Linked DNA regions of Homo sapiens: all the other regions are reported to be linked to region 1. The links are microRNA targets in miRTarBase. Many come from high-throughput screens and were not tested one by one. Region 1 holds a microRNA gene; each other region holds the end of a gene's coding sequence.
What was found. Region 1 holds the annotated microRNA hsa-miR-4778-5p (AAUUCUGUAAAGGAAGAAGAGG, at 2,976-2,997, opposite strand). A microRNA usually pairs through its seed, bases 2 to 8, with sites in the 3' UTR of a target mRNA and lowers its output. Matches are read on the target gene's strand: a 7mer-m8 pairs with bases 2 to 8, a 7mer-A1 pairs with bases 2 to 7 and ends in A, and an 8mer does both.

Region 2: miRTarBase lists LYRM7 as a target of hsa-miR-4778-5p. Seed matches in the 3' UTR shown: 8mer at 1,188-1,195 and 7mer-m8 at 3,034-3,040.
Region 3: the mRNA of ESCO1 is a reported target of hsa-miR-4778-5p. The part of its 3' UTR that is shown has no 7-base or 8-base seed match.
Region 4: the mRNA of ZKSCAN2 is a reported target of hsa-miR-4778-5p. Seed matches in the 3' UTR shown: 7mer-A1 at 2,429-2,435.

What each region holds. Positions count from the first base shown.
Region 1 is chr2:66,355,322-66,360,629 of GRCh38, forward strand. It overlaps MIR4778 (microRNA 4778), which reads right to left and starts at 3,007; the gene lies at 2,928-3,007.
Region 2 is chr5:131,198,531-131,203,838 of GRCh38, forward strand. LYRM7 (LYR motif containing 7) reads left to right here. Exons shown (of 5, transcript NM_181705.4): 5 at 1,001-5,308. The coding sequence ends at 1,071. Among named protein-coding and RNA genes, the nearest start is that of LYRM7, 30 kb to the left of the region's middle.
Region 3 is chr18:21,525,832-21,531,139 of GRCh38, reverse strand. It overlaps ESCO1 (establishment of sister chromatid cohesion N-acetyltransferase 1), which reads left to right. Exons shown (of 12, transcript NM_052911.3): 12 at 650-1,856. The coding sequence ends at 797. GREB1L (GREB1 like retinoic acid receptor coactivator) reads right to left here. Exons shown (of 33, transcript NM_001142966.3): 33 at 5,028-5,308. Among named protein-coding and RNA genes, the nearest start is that of ESCO1, 72 kb to the left of the region's middle.
Region 4 is chr16:25,235,658-25,240,965 of GRCh38, forward strand. It overlaps ZKSCAN2 (zinc finger with KRAB and SCAN domains 2), which reads right to left. Exons shown (of 7, transcript NM_001012981.5): 7 at 344-5,081. The coding sequence ends at 4,159. Among named protein-coding and RNA genes, the nearest start is that of ZKSCAN2-DT, 19 kb to the right of the region's middle.

The sequences.
Region 1 (5,308 bases):
AGATACATATTGTGGTCTCTAATTATAGCAAATTCACCCAGACAATGAAATCACACAAAGTTTTACTTGGAAAACTCCAAAACAAGAGGTCATCTAATTCAAGGTTCTCATCCTAGGGTTCATTGACATCCCAGGATGGGCTTGGGTGAAGTTGGACATAACACATTTGAATGTGAATTTTGCTAAACAGAAGTTCAGTACCTTTCAAATGTTTTTGTATGGCTATATGCCCCCATCCTTAAGAGTTAGAAAGCACCAATGCTGACCAAACTTTTTACTTTCTAGACAAAGAAAGATTATCCCAATAAACTATGACTTATGCAAAGCATAGGGCCAGTGTATTAGTCTGTTTTCACATTGCTGATAAAGACATAACCAATTCACAAAAGAAAGAGGTTTATTGGACTTACAGCCCCCACGGCTGGGGAGGCCTCACAATCGTGGCAGAAGGCAAGGAGGTGCAAGTCACATCTTACGTGGATGGCAGCAGGCAAAGAGAGAGCTTATGCAGAGAAATTCTGGTTTTTAAAATCATCAGATCTCGTGAGACCTATTCACTATCACGAGAACAACATGGGAAAGACCTGCCCCCATGATTCAATCATCTTCCACTGGGTCCCTCCCACAACACGTGGAAATTATGGAACTACAATATGAGATTTGGGTGGGGACACAGAGACAAGCCACATCAAGCTAGTTAGAGCCAGAACTGAGACATTAATCAAGGATGCCTAATTTTTCTAAGTTACTTTCAGACCAATCTCATTTATTGGTAGTACTTTCTTCCCTGCTTGCATGAGGGTGGGAGACAAATCTTGGCTCTCCAAACAGCCAGACCCCAGACTCTGTGTTTGACCTTGTGCAATAGATTTGTTTCTTTAAGCCTGGATTGGCTGGGCACGGTGGCTCATGCCTGTAATCCCAGCACTTTGGGAGGCCAAGGTGAGTGGATCACCTGAGGTCAGGAGTTCAAGACCAGCCTGCCCAACATGGCAAAACCCCATCTCTACTAAAAATACAAAAAATTAGCCTGGTATGGTGGTGCATGCCTGTAACCCCAGCTACTCAGGAGGCTGAGGCAGGAGAATTGCTTGAACCCAGGAGGCGGAGGTTGCAGTGAGCCGAGATCACACCACTGCACTCCAGCCTGGGTGACAAGAGCCAAACTCTGTCCAAAAATAACAATAATAAAAAAAAGCCTGAGTTTACAAATCTATAGAAGGAAATTTAAAATATGATCTCTGTTCCCATCAAATTTCTTTGTTTCAAGTGATATAAACTAACTATGGCTGATTAGACAGTAGGGAATTTATTGCAAGGGTATGAGAAAGCACGTAGAAAAGGCTTCTTTGTGGCTCAACTCCACAACACTGTATTTTATGTTTATGAAAACATTGGGAAGGCTGAACTACCAGACTCAGAAATGGCATAAAGAAGGGGTGCAGGTAACAGCCTGAGCCACAGCCAAAATGATGCCACAATGTGAGTGAGGTGGAGACTCTATCACTCCACCTGACTGTTGCTGACACTGAATACTGAGGCTTATCTGTTATTGCTACTGAACTTAAACATTTAATGTCACCACCACAGCCTCTGTAAACCCTGGAAGCTGATGTTGAAGCCACCTCTGCAACCATTAAAGGAGAAATAAATTCTCTGCTTTCCTGATTTTTGCATCTCTCAATGCAAATTTAAAGTCTGAGGCAGGTACCTCTGTTTGGCTGAGTATAGGTGATGTGTTCATACCTTAGCTGCAGGGTAGCCTGGGACAAGAATTTTTTTGACTTCCATACTGGGAAATTCAAGCAAAATTCATATTATTAGAAATTTCTCAAATGTAAGAAATGGGTTCAAAGGCTGAACTCAGCCATTCAAAGGCTGAAACCTCTCAAATAAAACTAACATGGATCTACTACTCCATCCCATTAGGTTGGCGTGAGGATTAAATAGATAATAATAGATAGAGTGTCTAGGAAATAATAAGGACTCAATGTTCATTTTCATCATCATTGTATTACTCTTGTAAGAGTCAGCTTATCTTCATGGTATGCCAGTTGTCTGTAATACCTATAGCTGAGAAAAGTGAAATAAGGATTTGAAGTGTTTTTATTTCACATAATGGGAAAATGTAGGGAAAATTAAGGAAATGAGGAGTAATGCCAGAAGAGATGAAAGTGAAAAGACTGACAGACAGAGTCAGATAAGGAAAGTAAATGGGCATTAGATTAGTTGCAGAATTACTGACTCCTGTGAAGGAATGGATTGTCCAGGGAAAAGAAGCTAGCCAAGAAATGGAGACCTGGGAATGAGATCCATGCTACTCCGAGCTCTAATCCTAGGGCTGAATCTCCCAATCTAGGGTGCCCATACAAAAAGAACACAATAATTAAAGACAAATAAGGAATAGAAATATTCTGGGTCTTTTTGGAATTAAAACCTTATAGCTTGCATCTGTTTGGTAGTGGTGATTGTAGTGGTGGTCCTAGTGGTGTGTGTATGTGTGCAAGTTCATTTTGTTTTGTTTTAAACTTACAGAACAGAATTGAGATTTGGATTTTAAGGGAATTTTGATATTTCATTTTGACAGCTCTCCTTCTGACACTTCATTCTTCTTCTTCTCGCACCCAAACACACACAGGCATACAAACCTCTTTGGGATTGGCTGCAGAAACAGTGCCTCCCAGAGTATTCCCATTCATCTCATTTGTGCTTAGCTGACCTCTAATACCTAGAGGAGAACTGTAGTGCAAACATCAAGAAAATAATAATGTAATTCTAGAATAATATCCCTAAGACTTATAAATATGAAGCAAATATAAGAACCCTTTTTTCAGTGGACAAGAATTGCTTGTCTATTCATCACATCCTTTTTTTGTTTGGAAAGTGTCTCCTCTCTCTCTCCATGTTGACTCTAGAAGGACTATAAGCCACATATTCAACTCTGCAAAGGAAGAAGAGGGCTTCACTTCTTCTTACCTCTTCTTCCTTTACAGAATTGGACATGTGATTTACACTGACCAGTCAGTTTACCTTATATGTCTTAATGCCTGTGATTAGTCCAGAGAGAAATACATGAAGTAGGGATAACCAATCCAAACACTGCTTTGGAGTTTGATTGTTGGGATAAAGTCTCTCTTGAGTTCACAAAGCTTCAGGATCATGTATTCATGTGGCAAGCACCAGGATGCTCTCACCACCTTATGGAAAAAGCTTGCCTGAAGCTGAACAAAGGCAAATGGAGCTCAACATACCTCTGAACAATCTGAGCCAACAACTTCTCCTTTTGACTTCAGCTACTTTAAGTTGAGGTTTTATTACTTGGTGTATTAGTCTGTTCTCACACTGCTATAAAGAACTACCTGAGTATGGGTAGTTTATAAAGAGGGATTTAATTGACTCACAGCTCCACAGGTTGTATAGAAGACATGGCAGGGGAGGCCTCAGGAAACTTACAATCATGGAGGCAGGGCAAATGGGAAGCAAGCACATCTTTACATGGCAGCAGGAGAGAGAGAGCAAAGAGGGAAGTGCTACACACTCTTAAACAACCAGATCTCATGATAACTCACTATCACAAGAACAGCATGGGAAAAATCTACCCCCATAATCCAATCACCTCTTACCGGGTCCCTCCCCCAACACTGGGGGTTACAATTCAACATGAGATTTGGGTGGGGACACAGAGCCAAATCATATCACTTGGAAGTTGAGAATTTTATATCTCATACTTCCCCGCCCCAAGAAAAAAATAATTTCATACCCCCTTAGTGATATGAGTTGAACTTTTAGTATGACTTAAGAAAACATACTGACAAAAATGGCCAATAATCTCAGTAAAGCTTTTAAAATATTATTTACTCAGACTCTAGAGAATGCTTGCACAACAAGTAGATTAATAGACACCTAACAATAACTTATTGGTCCCCCCATCCAAGGTTAAAAATCATTGTTTATAAGTGCTTATGCTTTCAAAACAATACTGAGAAAAATGCACTTCTGAGTGTTATCATATTTTGAAGACTATAAACCCTTCATCCACTTTTGAAAAGAGGATGATATTGAAAAAGCCATTTGATAAGCTTTTATATCCAAAGAAACAAAGAAGCAGTTTGCTTCGAAGACTCCAGGGACACAAGGCCACCACCTGTGAGGACACAGGAGCCACCTATGAGCCATGAAAGTTTGGAAACTTGCCTGGGAAGTTCATCAGGGTCACCACCAGAGGAAATCATTGATATTCATGGAGAATTGGATGCTCAGCAGTGCAGTGGCATATAGGTCACACACAAGACAAAAACTGTTTCTGAGGTTTGAATGCAATGCCATTAGTGAGCCGTTACTGATATGTTTGACACTGTATCAGAAAATTTTACCAAAGCTCCCTTTTCTACTAAAAGCAACTGAGGGGAAAAGAAAATGGTAGAAAACCAAAAATAAAAGCAACTATTTCCCGGGAAGACCAATGAAGCCCTTCAAAAAGCTGACTGGATTGTATTAAACTGCTAAGGTTTGAATGCATCTCCCCAGAGTTCATGTGTTGGAAACTTAATCCCCAATGCAACAGCATCGAGAGGTGGCACTTTTGAGAGGTGATTAGGTCATGAGAGCTTTGCCCCCTGGAATGGATTAATGTCATTATGGCAGGGGTAAGTTCATGATGTCAGGAATGGGTTTGTTATAAAAGCAAGTTTGGCCCTCTCTTGCTTGCTGGCTCTCATCCATTCTCTCTTCATGTGATGTCTTCTGCCAGGTTATGACTCAGCAAGAAGACCCCCACTAGATGCAACCCCTTGATCTTGGACTTCCTGGCCTCCAGAAACATAAGACAAATAAACTTCTTTTTATTGTTATTATCATTAATTTTTTATTTTTTATTTCAATAAGTTTTGGGGAACAGATGGTATTTTGTTACATGAATATGCTCATTAGTGGGGATTTCTGAGATTTTGTTGCACCCATCACTCAAGCATTGTATACTGTACCCAATGTGTAGTCTTTTATCCCTCCCTCTCCCCCACTCTTTCCTTTGAGTCTCCAAACTCCAATATATCATTCTTATGCCTTTGCATTCTCATAGCTTAGTTCCCACATATGAGTGAGAACATGTATGTTTGGTTATCTATTCCTGAGTTACTTCACTTAGAATAATAGCCTCCAATTCCATCCAGGTTGCTGCAAATCCCATTATTTCATTCCTTTCTTTGGCTGAGCAGTATTCCATGGTATATGTGTGTGTGTGTGTGTGTGTGTGTGTATGTGTGTGTGTGTGTATATGTATATGTATATATACACACACATATATGTATGT
Region 2 (5,308 bases), not on the chromosome of region 1:
AGAAGAAGAAATCAATGTATCTCCTCAAAAATTTGGAATTTTTTTTTTTTGAGGTGGACTGCCACTGTGTCCCCCAGGCTGGAGTGCAGTGGCACCATCTCGGCTCACTCACTGCAACCTCCGCCTCCCATGTTCAAGCGATTCTTGTGCCTCATTCTCCTGAGTAGCTGGGATTACAGGCATGCACCACCACACCCAGCTGATTTTTTTTTTTTTTTTCAGTAGAGATGGGGTTTCACCATGTTAGTCAGGCTAGTTTCCAACTCTAGACCTCAAATGATCATCCCTCCTTAGCCTCCCAAAGTTCTAGGATTACAGCCGTGAGTCACCACACCCGGCCAAAAATTTGTATCTTAAGAGCTTTATCTTAACTCCAGCAAGATGTCTTACCTAGGACTCAACAGGTTTTTGTTGTTGTTTTATGATATTTCTCAATGTGGGCACTATTGGCATTTTTGACAGGACAGTTCTTCACTATGCCAGACTGTTCCACCCATTACAGAAGGTTTAGCATCCCTGGCTCCTGCCCACTAAATTCCAGTAGCATTCTCCAGTTGATATGACCACACAAAACACCCTCTTTTAAGAACAATTGTTATTTAAAATTTAGAATCTTTAAATTAGGAGACCAGTCTTGCTTTTCATATAGTAGATAGTATAAGCAAAATTTCCAGTTGTTTTCATTATCAGTAATTGGTAATTAAATGACCAATAATAGAAGTTTTAGCTGAATTCTCTTCAGTTATTTGATTTGCTATATTTAATGATAAAGGGTTAAGTGGATCATATATGTTTTTATATAATCTGAAATGAGAATGCTATTAATTCTAATTAGAGTCAAGGATGCCACCTTAGATATCAACTGAAATAAAATATCCCTGGAAGATTTATCTTAAAACTGGATATTTTACTATTTTAAATTTTAGGGGGAAATGAGTGTCCTTGCATTTAATTCTAATTTTAGTGATGTTAATTATTCTCTTTTTTTTTTTTCTTTCAGAACTGGTCCCTAGGAAAGACCTTCTTGTAGAAAATGTGCCATATTGTGATGCACCAACTCAGAAGCAATGAGTTTTCTAGAATACAACAAGTCTTTGTACTTTTTAACTTTAAAATCTACAACTCTGGCAAAAGTCCTGGAAATGCAGACATTTTCCCTGAACTGGCATATTGAAAATGAATGAATTACAGAATAGCTTCATATTTAAATTTCATGTTAAAAGGTCATTACTGAGAACTAAAGAACATAATTAAGTATTTCTAAAGGAAATTAGATAAGAAAACATTTCATTTTCATTGAAAATCAAATTTCATAAAGCAAAGTAAATGCTTAGGGAGATATATTCAATCTTTGACCTTGATGAGTATTTGATCTTACCATAGCTATTTGAGAATGTGGTGCTTTTACAAATTGGTGAGTTTTCCTGCCATGTGAAATGCAATTATTACATTTAAATTGTTAGATTAAAATGATATTTAGTCCTGAAAAATATTAAATTGGTCAAAAAAATCACAGTGTATGCCAGCTCTCTACAGAAAGTGGCCTTTGTTTTCTAAAGCACTGGGATTATTTCTGTAGCTAATATATAATTGTACAGTTTCTTTTTAGAGATAGAGAGTATCTCTGTGTTCTTATGAAGACATTTTTTATCAGTTTTCTGAAAATAGATGAATAAAATATTATAGTCACCTAGGGTCACTATGGAATAAAGAAATCCTAGTTTAAAGAGGAAATAGTGGCCCTTGATCAAACTATTTAATATGGCCTTAGTAGAATTAGCTGTATTTAGACAAAGTTAGACTTTAGTGTGAAATGTAATCGGTGGCTACATTCTCATCGTTTTAATTAATGAAACTTAAATGGCTTCTCTTCTTCCACATGTCCTGTCCTTGACAAGATGGGCAGTATCACAAAAGGTCCTGGCATTCTACCATCTAACACTAGGAACTGTAAAATACTGTTTAATATTCTTCTTGTTTCTCTTTTATCTGTGTATCTTTGCCATTCTATTTTCTCAGTGAATAGTATGTTTTCTCCCATTCACTGATAAATTCTCTCATTTGATGATGATACAGGGTTTTTAATTTTTGCAAGATTCTCAATGCAAGCATTGTTATGTATCTAGAAATTATACCTAGAGAAAAATGAAAGTCGTTTCAAATTTGAAATTTGCCCTTTTAAGAGAATGCTGAATGTCATCGCAGTATATAATCACTATATAAATGTGCTGACTTACAGTTATTTTAGTGTCTATATGACATATTTTGAGGAAAGTTGGCTGACGTTATTTAAATTTAATATATATTCTATATTTTAGTGTTATTGAATATTTTATCACTGAGCTTTTTTCTTTAACCTGAATTCCCTGTTCCATTTTTCATTCATATTAATTTAAATAACTCCAGATTTCTTTCTTATAGTCATTATTAGTAGCAGATGAGATTAATAATTCACATGTTTATTAAAGATAGTGGCTTAGAAATTTTAAGATATATTGATATAGGCCCGGGCGCTGTGGCTCACACCTGTAATCCCGCACTTTGGGAGGCTGAGGCGGGCAGATCACAAGGTCAGGAGTTCGAGACCAGCCTGGCCAATGTGGTGAAACCCCATCTCTACTAAAAACACAAAAATTAGCCAGGTATGGTGGCGGGCGCCTGTAGTCCCAGCTACTCGGGAGGCTGAGGCAGGAAAATCACTTGAACCCGGGAGGTGGAGGTTGCAGTGAACTGAGATTGTGCCACTGCACTCCAGCCTGGGGGACAGAGTGAGACTCTGTCTCAAAAAAAAAAAAGAAAAAAAAAGGAAAAAGGAAAAAAAAAAGATATATTGATACAGATAGGTAGATATGATATTGTACTTTCATGCCATAAGACTACACAATAAAGTTCCTGAAAGTTCCTGGCTGGGCGCAGTGGCTCACGCCTGTAATCCCAGCACTTTGGGAGGCCGAGGCAGGCAGATCACCTGAGGTCAGGAGTTCTAGACCAGCCTGACCAACATGGGGAAACCCTGTCTCTACTAAAAAAAATACAGAATTAGCCAGGTGTGGTGGCACATGTCTGTAATCCCAGCTACTCGGGAGACTGAGGCAGGAGAATTGCTTGAACCCAGGAGACGGAGGTTGCAGTGAGCCGAGATCGCACCATTGCACTCCAGCCTAGGCAACAAGAGTGAAACTCCGTCTCAAAAATAAATAAATAAATAAAGTTCCTGTGAAGTATATAAACATGTCAACAACAGGCTTGACTGTCACAAAATTCTGAAAGATGTCGCACTCTATTCTTATATAGCATATGCTAATTTATTTATTTATTTTTTGAGATTGAGTTCTGCTGTGTCACCCAGGTTGGAGTGCAGTGGCATGGTCATGGTCCACTAAAGCCTTGACCCCTGGGGCTCAGCAGTTATGCCAACTAAGCCTCCCAAATAGCTGAGACTAGAGGTATGCGCCACCACACCTAGCTATTTTTTTTATTTTTAGTAAGGACAAGGTCTCATTATGTTGGCCAGGCTGGTCTCAAATTCCTGAGCTCAGTTGATCCTCCCACCTCAGCCTCCCAAAGTGCTGGGATTACAGGTGTAAGCCACTGCACCCTGCCTATTCTTATAATCATATATTTATATTTCAAATGGATTTTAACTGGTTATTTAATAGTTTAATTAGATAAAGTAATTCATGGCTGGGTGTGGTGGCTCACGCCTGTAATCCCAGCACTTTGGCAGGCTGAGGCAGGTGGATTACCTGAGGTCGGAAGTTCGAGACCAGCCCAACCAACGTGGAGAAACCCCATCTCTATTAAAAATGCAAAATTAGCAGGACATGGTGATACACACCTGTAATCCCAGCTAGTCAGGAGGCTGAGGCAGGAGAATTACTTGAGCCAGGGAAGCAGAGGTTGTGGTGAGCTAAGATTGTGCCACTGCACTCCAGCCTGAGAGAACAAGACTCCGTCTCAAAAAAAGAAAAAAAGAAAACTTTTTTACACATGGGTATCTCACCATGTTGCCCAGGCTGGAGTGCAGTAGCTATTCATAGGCACAGTCATAGCACACTGCAGCCTAGAATTTCTGACCTCAAGCAATCATCCTGCCTCAGCCTCCTAAGTAGCTAGGACTACAGGTGCATACCACCATAACCAGCTTTAATTAAATGTTTTTTATTTGGTTATTTTTTTTAAGTTTTCTGTATTCACACAAGGGGTTGCCCAAATATAATTTTGCTTTGACTATTGAGATCTAGTGAAAGTGGGGTATATGAATTCTAATTGCAAATATCCAGGCTCAGAGGCCCAGCAGGACTTTCTAACACAATCTTTTAGCGGAAGTTAGAAATGGTATATAGCAGGAGAGTCAGATTTGAGAAGCATATGTAGATTCGAAGCTGGGGGAATATGGCAGGTAGTTTGTACAACATCTAATTCAGAACATTAAAATTAAGATTTTAGTCAAACTGTGTTTAAGTTAGTTCTTATTTTCCTGTAGATGCATCTCACAGCATCAGTACAATACCAAAAAAGCACACAAGAATAAGAATATGTGGAATTTCTATACCTATTGACAAAGCACATAATTTAACCATAAACACAAAGCCATAGGTCAACAAAGAAATGAAGATTCCAGTTCTGAAGGTGAGTTTTCTGAAGCCAAAGTGGATACATGCAAAATTAATATAGTTTTACTGTATATCAGTTGTCACCAATCAGAAATGGAAAACAGATCCTATTTATAATTGCAAACAAAACTGTAAAATAGACTTTTTAAAGTCTGGGAATAGACTTCTAAAATAAGCTATAACACTTAAAAAGGAGAGATATACTATGTTCCTAGATAGGACAATTGAAAATTCTGGAGATGACAGTTTTTCAAAAATCTATTGAGGCCAGGTGCAGTGGCCCATGCCTGTAGTTCCAGTACTTTGGGAGGCCTAGGTGGGTGGATCACCTGAGGTTGGGAGTTTGAGACCAGCCTGACCAACATGGAGAAACCCCGTCTCTACTAAAAATACAAAATTAGCCAGGCGTGGTGGTGCATGCCTGTAATCCCAGCTACTCGGGAGGCTGAGGCGTGAGAATCGCTTGAACCCGGTAGGCAGATGTTGCAGTGAGCCGAGATCGCACCATTGCACTCCAGCCTAGGCAACAAGAGCGAAACTCCATCTCAAAAATAGAAAAAACATTTATCGAAATCCCAACAAGTTGACAAATATATCCACATAAAAATATAAAACTTCTGTATTCTGTGAAAGCTACTATAAATAAAGTTTAGAGAAAGTTATTTGCCACCTATGTCATGATTGAAATAGTT
Region 3 (5,308 bases), not on the chromosome of region 1:
GTTATTATAAATGGACTTTTTTCCCCCTAAATTTCAGTTTTAGGTTGTTCATTACAAGTGTATAGAAACAGTTTACTTTTGAATATCAATCTTGAATATGCAGCCTTGCCAGACTCGTTTATTAGATTTTTTGTTTGTTTTTGTGAATTTTTTAGGATTTTCTATAAACAAGGCCTTTTCATCTGCAAAAGAGATAGTTTTATTTCTTTCTTTCCAATCTGGATGATTTTTATTTCTTTTCCTCATGACGAGAACCTCCAATACAATATTGAATAGAAGAGGTGAGAGTAGTCTTCTCTTATTCCTGATCTTTGAGGAACAGTTTTCAGTCATTCACCATTAACTCTGATATTCCTTGATGTCTTTGATCAGGTTGAGGAAATATTTCTACTCTTAGTTGAATATTTTTATCATGAAAAGATGTTGGGTAAATGTTTTTACATTGTTGCTTTTATTAAAATTTAACCTCAGGTTATTGATATTATAGATGAATAATTATTTTCAAAAATTTTGAGCACATACAGCAGTATCTAAAAAGCTTTTTTAGTCAAATTGTATTTGACAGGTTATTCCAGTTTTAATGATTAGAATTTTTTTTTTTTTAACATTTCACACTTAACCCTTCCCCCCCCCCATTTTTTTTTAATAGGAGTAACTTTATATATGGCTCATATTTGAGCAAAGAAGAAATTGCTTTCTCAGATCCCACTCCTGATGGAAAGCTGTTTGCAACACAGTACTGTGGCACTGGTCAATTTCTGGTATATAATTTTATTAATGGACAGAATAGCACGTAAAACAAATTCTTGCCTACACCACTAGAAGACATCTATTGAAGAGAATGGATTGGTTGCTGACTTTAACCAGGAACTAGGGCCATTTTTATTACAATGAACTCAGGACTGGCAACAACCATATGGTTGTTCCATTTTCATAAAATTGGAAACAATGCAGTAATAGCTTATTGTTTTGTTTTTTAAAGAAGATATTTTATTATCTTTTACAGAAATTTATGATTGATGTATTTTATCTATAGTTATTTAGACATGTTTACATGCAGCAGATAATTGTTCATAGTGGACTGAAAACTAATGCAAGGACTATGGTCTCAGTGATAAGTATATTTTGAAGTTCTTAATATGGAAATATACCAGTGTAGCTTGGTACTGTATTTTTTTATATTGATCTGCTGATACCAGTGATAGGCTTAAAGATTGTATTTTCACAGAGTGGAAACCAATTTTTTTAGTTATTGTTCAAGGAGGGTGCAATATTAAGTGTTTTGGAATTTGAAGCTAATTTTTAAAAGGCCTGAACTATACTTTGAAGAAACCCCTATAGAAAAGGAAAGCTCCAGCTAAATAGGAAGAATTAGAATATTGAGCTTTTTTTTCCTGATTTTTCTCTTTCCTATCTTTGATGGAAGGAGGAAGTAGAAAGTGGTAAAGAATTGAGGCTTTCCTTCTTGGAGAGCTGTAAATGACAAGCATTAGGAAAGGTACCCTCCTAGATTCATTATTCTTTCATTCTGGTTTCACTTTTAAAATAAATGGCAACTTGGCACACCTAGGCTGTTAACAAATCTCAAAGAGGTTTATAAAAACGTATAGAATACTTGGAAGCAAAGTATGGATGACTCGGTATCTGCTTTGTTATTCCTCAGAAATACTGCACTGAGTATATGCCCTCATTACTGGACTTCATTTTGATACTTGTCTATCCTTCATAGTGCCCTCTACTTTTAAAGGGTTTATATGTTGAAAAACTGCTGTGGCCTTTTATGACCTGTATATAATGTAGAATAAAAATAATAAAATACTTGATAGCTTTTTCTAAGTGACCAATGTACTAACTGAGAATAATGGTGTGTTGTCATTTGTGCTTTTTCAGGGTGTTTTTTTGGTTTGATATCTTGAAATATGATTAAAACATTGGCTTCCTAAAGGCAGTTTCCACCAGTTTGCCAAAGGATCATTGTGTCAGCAGCAAATCAGCTGAACTTTATTTCCAAAGGCAAAATCCTTTCTGATTATTTTAGTAACATAGTACTTTTATGATGTTGCAAATAAATGAAGGGCCCACAGCCCAAGAATGAATTACCACTGTGGTTCAACTTAGGTTATTTTTGTGAGCTGAAATGATCATATCTCAGTTGAAAACTGGCTAAAATTTAGGGCCTTAAATTAACAGGTATACATTTTATTTCCCTATAAATTTTTGCTTTTACAATTTCTAGGCCAGGCGCGGTGGCTCACGCCTATAATCCCAGGACTTTGGAAGGCTGAGGCGGGCGGATCACGAGGTCAGGAGTTCGAGACCAGCCTGACCAATATGGTGAAATCCCGTCTCTACTAAAAATACAAAAATTAGCTGGTTTTGGTGGCATGCACCTGTAATCCCAGCTGCTCAGGAGGCTAAGGCAGGACAATAGCTGGAACCTGGGAGGTGGAGATTGCAGTGAGCAGAGATTGCACCATTGTACTCCAGCCTGAGCAAAAAGAGCAAAAAACTCCACCTCAAAAAAAAATTTTTTTTTCTAGAGTGGTATAAGACTCTACATTTTGTATGGGTAGAATGATAGGGCACGGTAAATATTTCCCCGTGATTCATCAAGCTGGTCTAGCTTTTTTTTTTTTTTTTTTTTTTTTTTGAGACAGAGGCTCACTCTGTCACCCAGGCTGGAGTGCAATGGCATGACCTCAGCTCACTGCAACCTCCACCTCCTAGGCTCAAGCGATTCTCCTGCCTCAGCCTCCAGAGTAGCTGGGATTACAGGCACCTGCCACCACGGCCGGCTAATTTGTTTTTGTATTTTTTAGTAGAAACAGGGTTTCACCACATTGGCCAGGCTGGTCTTGAACTCCTGACCTCACGTGGTCCACCTGCCTCGGCCTCGCAAAGTGCTGAGATTATAGGTGTGAGCCACTGCACCTGGCCCTAGCTTTTGATACTGTCATTTCCCTTTGGGCTTGAGACTGTTCTAGTCAATCCTGGTCTCATTGTTTGCCTGACAGGTACCATGATTTAAAAAAAAAAAAAAAAAACAGAATGAAATTTTGGGATATAGTGTAGACTCTCTAGTAACTGTTAATCCCATAATACAGGTCCAATTTCCATAAACAATAGTATACTACTTTGACTACTTTTGACTTGGTTTCAAGGTGACCTGGAGGTGGAAGAGGGTATATTGGGTGGTTGGTTTATATGTTATTATTACTGAGAAACCAGTTTATTTTCATGTTTATACTGAAGATATAGCCTCCCAAATTTTACAATTTAGGTATTTCTCTAAGAATAGTATTATTAGTTAATACCTAACATTTGAGTGTTTGCTATGTGTCAGACCCTGTGTGTTTAGTCCTGCATTATTTTATGTAATCATTACGACAGTCCTATGAGGTAGGGTTTATAATTGAGGAATCTGGAACTTAGATGATAATTAAGAGCCGTTTGTGTGAAAAGTGTTGAAACACTGAACTAAAGCTGTGATGTGGAGATGAAGACGAGACAGATACACATTGAAAAGATAAAATTGAAGAATTGACACAGTTGAATTGATAGGAATTTATAAACAACCAGAAAAAGATCATGGCAAAGAGGTTAAGGTAAGTGGGAATTTTGGTTTGGGTAATTGAATTAGATTGACAGATGGGAATACAGGGGAATTAGGTTGGGAGGATTGGATGGGGATGTCCTCAGTTTTGGTCAAGATTTTAAGGTGGTTGTAGAAAGAGTCTCTTAAGTGGAGAAACCTTTTAGTATACAATTGGATATGTGAATCTAGAGTTTCAGAAAGGTTCTAACTGAGAAACAAATTTATGAGTTCACTTATTTATTTGAAGGTTCACAAGGTCACCCTGGGGTTTGTAAAATGAGAAGGTAGAAGAGAGTTGTGAGGTACACCATCATTTAAGAGTCTCAAAGAAGACTGCCTAAGAAGGCATGAGCAGCAAGGTAGGAGAGCCAGAAGAGAGTGGTAGAAACCAAGGGAAAAATGTCAAGAATCAAAGAATGATCAACCCTGTCATACCACAGTTGAAGACTGAAGAGAGCCCAAGTGATGTTAGGAAAAGAGCAGTCTCAGTGGAGTGGTGGAGGCAGCAGGGACACGGTGAGTGTACACTAATGGCCACAGACTGTAGAAGAGGGTGAGTCTGTAATTGCTGACTATATAAAGGTGCTTATAGATTTTTTGTTAGCAGCCCTCATGTAGTTGTTGGTTGTTTATAAAAATATCTAGCATAGAGACATGGTAAGAGCCACAAATATAGTCAGGAACTACAAGATTTTATGGGCGATGCTTTTATCTGCATGGACACACAGATAAAAAGCAGTATTTTACTACTTCATAATATGCAAGAGTGAACTTGGTTTATCTACTGAAAGCCTGACTGTTGTAAGGACAGTCAGTGAGTACAACAAACCTGCAGTGTTATTTTAATTGTTCTTGTTTACTTTGCACGGCTGCCCAGCTATAGAGTCTTATCCTTCTGGATGGGAACACAGCTGTATTCCTGCCCATCCACATTGCAGCTAGGGTTGAGATTGCTGAGTGAGTTGATTTCTAGGGTAGTGACTCTAGACATACATTTTCTTTCTCATGGCTCCTGAGTCTTTAGGCAGAAAAAGGGATGAGTTCTGTCTTTTAGCAACCCCCCACCCCCACCCTTCTGGTAAAAATAAAATACACTGGACTAGTAAAAATAAAATATGTGGAATGAAGTGGTCAGAAAAGAACTTACTGGTGTTGCCTTTTTTTTTTTTTTTTAACTTAATACCATCATCTATTGTCATAGTCACTGAAGTAGATGCTTTAACTCAACAACACTTGATAGTTGAGAGCACAGTGAATTTATTATGTGAATGACTTTTTCTTTGGCCTTAGCGGCAATTCCTAAAGTCATCTTTAGCAGTATTTTTACTGTTGTTGTTTTGTTTTCAGTGAAGCCAAGGTTTCAGTGTTAGAGTAGTATTCTCCTAGACTCAGAGGAAGCTTTAAGGGCCAATTTCCAGTTTCTGTGTCTAAAGAGAAGCTTGATAAATGTTCGTTCTCTGGATGTTGTTTCAGGCCTAAGTAGTTTAGTGTGATGTTGCAGCAGTCAGTTTCACAGTTAATTAATAGTCTTTTCAAGGCAGCTGCTTTGGAATGTATAGTGGAACACCAGTAGTCTTTACTTTCCTCTGAAAGTCTGTCATTACACTTACAAATATTTATTGCCCTTCCTGAGGGTCCTTTGGCCTAGAAGATTGTTTTCATGGAATCTATGTCAAATTCTTTTAATTTACTACACTTTATTAATAGATTGAA
Region 4 (5,308 bases), not on the chromosome of region 1:
AAAGAGTAAAGTTTTGTCTCTCCTGTTACTGTATCTTCGAAGAAACTTTTAAGACTTCTTCCACCATTAGGCTATGGGGGAGTGCCTCAGAAACACAGGCAGCACGTGTATCCAAGGCTAATTCCCTCCTAGCACTGGAGATGACCATTACTGGGACAATGGCAGGGACAACCACCAGAGGACGGCTGCACACAGCTGTGGACTCACAAAAGACCCCTGCTACTTGTGGGGGACAACACTGAACTAGAATGAGACTGGAATTCTTTTCATTGGCTGGTAAGATCAGCTTTTATCAACTTCTTGGTACATTATATTTTCTCTTAATAGAATGACGCCCTTCAAATTATGGCAGAAACCAGTGGGAGCCATTTATTTTAGACATTTATTCCACAAACAAGTTTTCAAGAAGACATCTAAGTGAACACTGATACAAAACAATGAATGGACATCCATTTGCACCAGGTCTTGGAATGCATTCAGAGGCAGAGGCTTCCAGTTTCACAAGTTACTCAGACATTCCTTTAGCCAGGGCTGCCCCAGCTCCCTCACAGCTGTCTTGTCTGTCACTGGGCGCCAGACCTCCTGACAGAGGCTTCCTTCACTTCAGCCTACCTGCCACTGGTTATCGAGGTGCTTGGGGGGTGCCTGCTGTGGACCACGAGGGACTTGCCCTTTCTCCTTCCCCAACAAGCTCCTGGGCTGAGTTTGCTGTCACAGCATCCCCTCCCTTTCCTGAAGCATGCGATGGATTTGGTATGGCCAGATGTGGCAGGCACAGGACAGCTGGGCCGGCAGCCTGGTCTTCTAACCTCTTCCGCATCTATATCACGCTCCACAGCCTCATGAAACATTAGAGCCAGAGCAACTTAGCAGTTAAGTTCAACTTCTCTTCAGATGAGGAGCCGAGGCCCAGAGAGGCTATGATGTGTCAAACAACACTCATTTAGTGACAAGATTAAAACTTGCTTCTTTCAGCTTCCAGTCTCATGCTCATTCCACCAAGGCCAGGCTGCCCTGAGCCATTTACGTGTGAGGTTTCCCTTTTTAAAAAACTGTTTCTTTCCAGATGAATGAATTAGGTTGAATGCATAATAACATCACTGGTAAGAACTGGAGGTATTTGTGGCAGTAACAAAGCAAGCCTAGGTGGGACATACGACCCCAGTTTCCAAAATGCCTTCGATAAGATGATAGTGAAAAGTTGTCAGTCTATGCTGCTTTTCAAAAACAGGATTTGACACAATTTACAAGGAAATAAGATGAAATTAAATAAATATAGGTTGGGGTAGTTGGTTGAGGTGGGCTGTAAGTTTTGTTGAACTTTCCAGCAGCCAGAACAAAGAGAGAAAAAGCAGCTTAAGTTACAAAAATCACAGTGTTTGTAATACATACATACAGATCTACACACACATGTAGACGTGTGTGTGTACACATACTGCGCTTAGGATCAGAGCTTTCCTTGGCACTGAGATCTAGATAAAAAAACCTTTTTCTATGAATCTTCATAAAGGCAATGTTATGTGATCTAAAAGACACATTGGTCAGAACATGATTATTCATTTTGACTTACATGTACCAGGTGAAAACAAATAAAATGCAGGGAGACAGGTAGTGTTGGTCTAAAATGGGGGGGAGACCTTCCATTTCTTCAGAACAAAGTTCATCAAATTAATGTAACACATGTCTAGACAGCCCATTTACAATTAGGAGTAGAGATAGGGGAACCCAAATTCCACCTCAGCTTGCTCCCAGGCATATGAGAGTTAAACAGAATCAGTTTGTCCCACTAGAGAGGGAATGGGTCTTGCTTGACCCTTTCCTGCCACTGGGGAAGGTTGAGAGATGAAGGTACAGAATATGATTCTGGGCAACTTAGCGCAACTCTTCTGCAGGGGAAGGTGATGTTCTCATGACTGAGCTCCTGGCCTTCTGTAACTGCCATGGTGTAAGTGGCCCCAACTTTTGCTGTGATGCTTCCTCTATCAAACTGTGAGTTCCTTGAGCCCAGGCACCATGCCCCTTCCTTCCTTTTTCTATCATTCACTGTGGCTAGAACATGGCCTTACATGTAACAGTGCTTCATATTTATGAATAAGTCATCTACTTTCCTGAATCATGCTTCCACATAATATCAATCCTGTGTACATATTATTAAGTGGTGATTTCTATTAATTTACATCTTCTCTAGAGCTGGAATTCCAGAACATCTACACAATATAAACACAAGCCCACTGGCACCACAAACATCTTACTGTGCTACGCACACTACCAACATGGAACTGTACTTAGCATTAGAAATCTATAACTTGGACAACACAGAAAAATCAACCTATTGAGATGTGAACAGTCATAATATTTCCAACAAATGTAAATCAGAAACATTTATCAATGTCTACCTGAGTCACCTGCCTTCCAACAGGCCACACCCTATTCTGGCACCATAAATTAGATTTCTTTCTACAGTGCCTACCCTCCTAGGTACTTTGCTGAACAAGTTTCAAAAGATTGAAACATACCAAAAGGAAAAATATCATTTCCAGATGGCTTCAAATAAGAGCATTTGACAAAGAAAGGGAGAGAGAAGAGCAAAATAATCACCCACAAACAGCCCTAACTCCGGTTCCCTTCCCATTAAACTTGTGACTTCTCCCTTGCCAAAGCAAAGCCACCCTGGGTCACCTACATACTAAGGGAATAAACGCCACTGACTCCATCCTGAAGCAACTGGCCATGGAAAATCAAATCTCTGGGTTTCATCTGTAACTTCAAAAGTCAATTAACCATCCCCCATCAGAACTTTTCCTTCAGTGTTTACTGGGTTACTGCCGGGGGTTCTCAAAGAGATTTTTCAGACAAAACAAGTAAATGAGGAAAACAAAAACGGTGTTCTGGATTTCTGGATTGAAGTTTTTATAAATGTTCCCACTTTTCACCCAGTGAGCTCTAGAGTTGTGTTAAGTTACTTGGCACACTACAGTTAGGTTTCTGATGCGGTGAACAGGGACTAGAAGCCTCAGGAAAAGAGACTGGGAGATTTAACAGCCAGACCTGAGAGCGCTGGTCTAAGCTGAGGTGGCTATCTGATCGACAGCAGGCCAAAGGAGTCCAACTGGTCTTAGAAATGCTTCAGGTGTCTATTACCTCTTCCCTATCCCCTTAAAGTTTTAGAAACACTATTATAATATTATACTGCAGTGCAGGGGTGGGAGGTACGAAATATGCCAACATGCCAGTCATGTTCTAGATAAGAGCCAGAGAAGTTAGAGGATAGAACTAGAACGCATCTGAAATCCTACTTTGCTTTAGTGAGACACACCACGAGCAGGCCTCCTATTCTATCTGAGGAGGGCATGGTAGTTCGGAAGAGGCCGGCAGGAGCACCCAGAGCAACTGAGAGGCAAGTGCAGGGCTATGAGAAACAGTAGGAGGACCTGGGATTACTTATAGGCTGGAGAAGCAGCAGCCAGGGGATTTAAGTCTTCGGGTACAGAAAAGGATGAGGGGTGATCAATTGCTTCTCACCTCCATGGAGGGCAAGGCATTAGTAACAGGATTTCAGTGACAATACAGGGATTCTGCCCTAGCTATTTGGATCAACTTCTTGACAAAAAAAAAAAAAAAGGTACACTGTAACAGACTTCTGAGGAAAGCTATAAAATCTTCACTCTTCTTTTGTGGATCTCTTCAAAACCAAGATGGATTTGATGTAGTTCCGATCAGACTCCTCAAAGTTCTATCTAAATGTGAAAATCTGTTATCAAGTTTCATCCAGGATCTCACGGAGTAGGTAATAACAACAAAAAAACTTTTGGCATTTTTTATATCCTTGAAGACAACTCTCACCCATATGGAAGATCTTGAATGTTGCCGAACTTAGCAATCCAGTTGCAGTGGCCTCAATGTACTGAAGGGTATTTCATTCTGAACTCGGACAATGTATCTTCGCCACATTCTTAAAGGAGAAGCTGAGACACACAGAAGAGGAGGAACAGACTGATGAAGTTAGAGGCAGAGGTGAGAACAGGATGAAAGTGTTTAGTTTATTTATATTCTCAAGTTTATCTTGGAAATTACACTTCATAGCTAAGAAAAGATTGCTTCCAAGAATGAGATTAGGGTAAAATGGCTAAGGGGGCATTTAGGAAGAGAAGATCATCATCAAAAAGTTTTCCTAAATTCATCAGTCTTTCCCTTATGTGGGTTCTCAGGGCAATACAGAGATGGAGGGTGTGGCAGAGGCTTTTCTCTCACATGAACTTCCCGATGTTTGGTAAGAACAGAACTCTTACTGAAACGTTTGCCACACTGGGCACATCCATAGGGCTTCTCTCCAGTGTGTATTCTCCGATGTTCTCGAAATCTCGTACAGTTATTGAAACTTTTTTCACAGTCCACACATTTGTAGGGATTCTCCCCAGTGTGAACTCTCCGGTGGGCGCTGAAATGAGAACTGTTGGTGAAACTTTTCCCACACTCTCCACACTGATAGGGCTTCTCACCGGTGTGCGTTCTCTGATGTATAATAAGACTAGAGCTCTGACTAAAGCATTTTCCACACTCTCCGCATCTGTAGGGTTTCTCTCCTGTGTGGATTCTCTGGTGGGCACCAAAATTTGAGGAGTCATTAAAGCTTTTTCCACAGTCAAGACATTTAAAAGGTTTTTCGCCTGTGTGGATTCTTTGGTGTCTGATCAGGCTCCTGCTTCTACCAAAGCACTTCCCACAGACACCACACTTGTAAGGATTCTCCTTGTGGTGGGTCATCCGGCACATCAGACGAGTGCTCCTTCCAAAGCTTTCTCCATATTTGAGAAGTCTGTAGGGTCTCTTCCCCACAAAAGGCCTCTGATGCACAACGGCTTTCCCTAAATCTCTAGGCTGAGACATCGGCTTTCCCTGTCTAATTCCTTGAAGATTTTCCCATTGTCTTCCTGAGATGCATTCCCTTTTGCGATATTTGCTGGGGTCGGTACTCTGGGAAACAACTCTTTTAGACTTTTCTATTAATGCCCTATGCTGTTCCATGTCCTTATATACTATCTGTGTTGGATCCTCCTTGATGCTACTTCCGATTTCAAAATCTGAAAAAATGAAAGACAATACAAATTTTATACAAGTCTGATATTAACCATAAACAACCTGGCTTGCAAGGCTTGATCCGCTTGCTCTCCATACACTTCTCTAACCTCAGATCCTGTGACTCTTCCCTGATTCATTCTGCTATATTTCTTTCCATTCATAAACAGGCCAATAACAGCCAGTACAGAGTAGGCCTTAAGAAATGTTTCCTGCATTATAATCCAAGCCA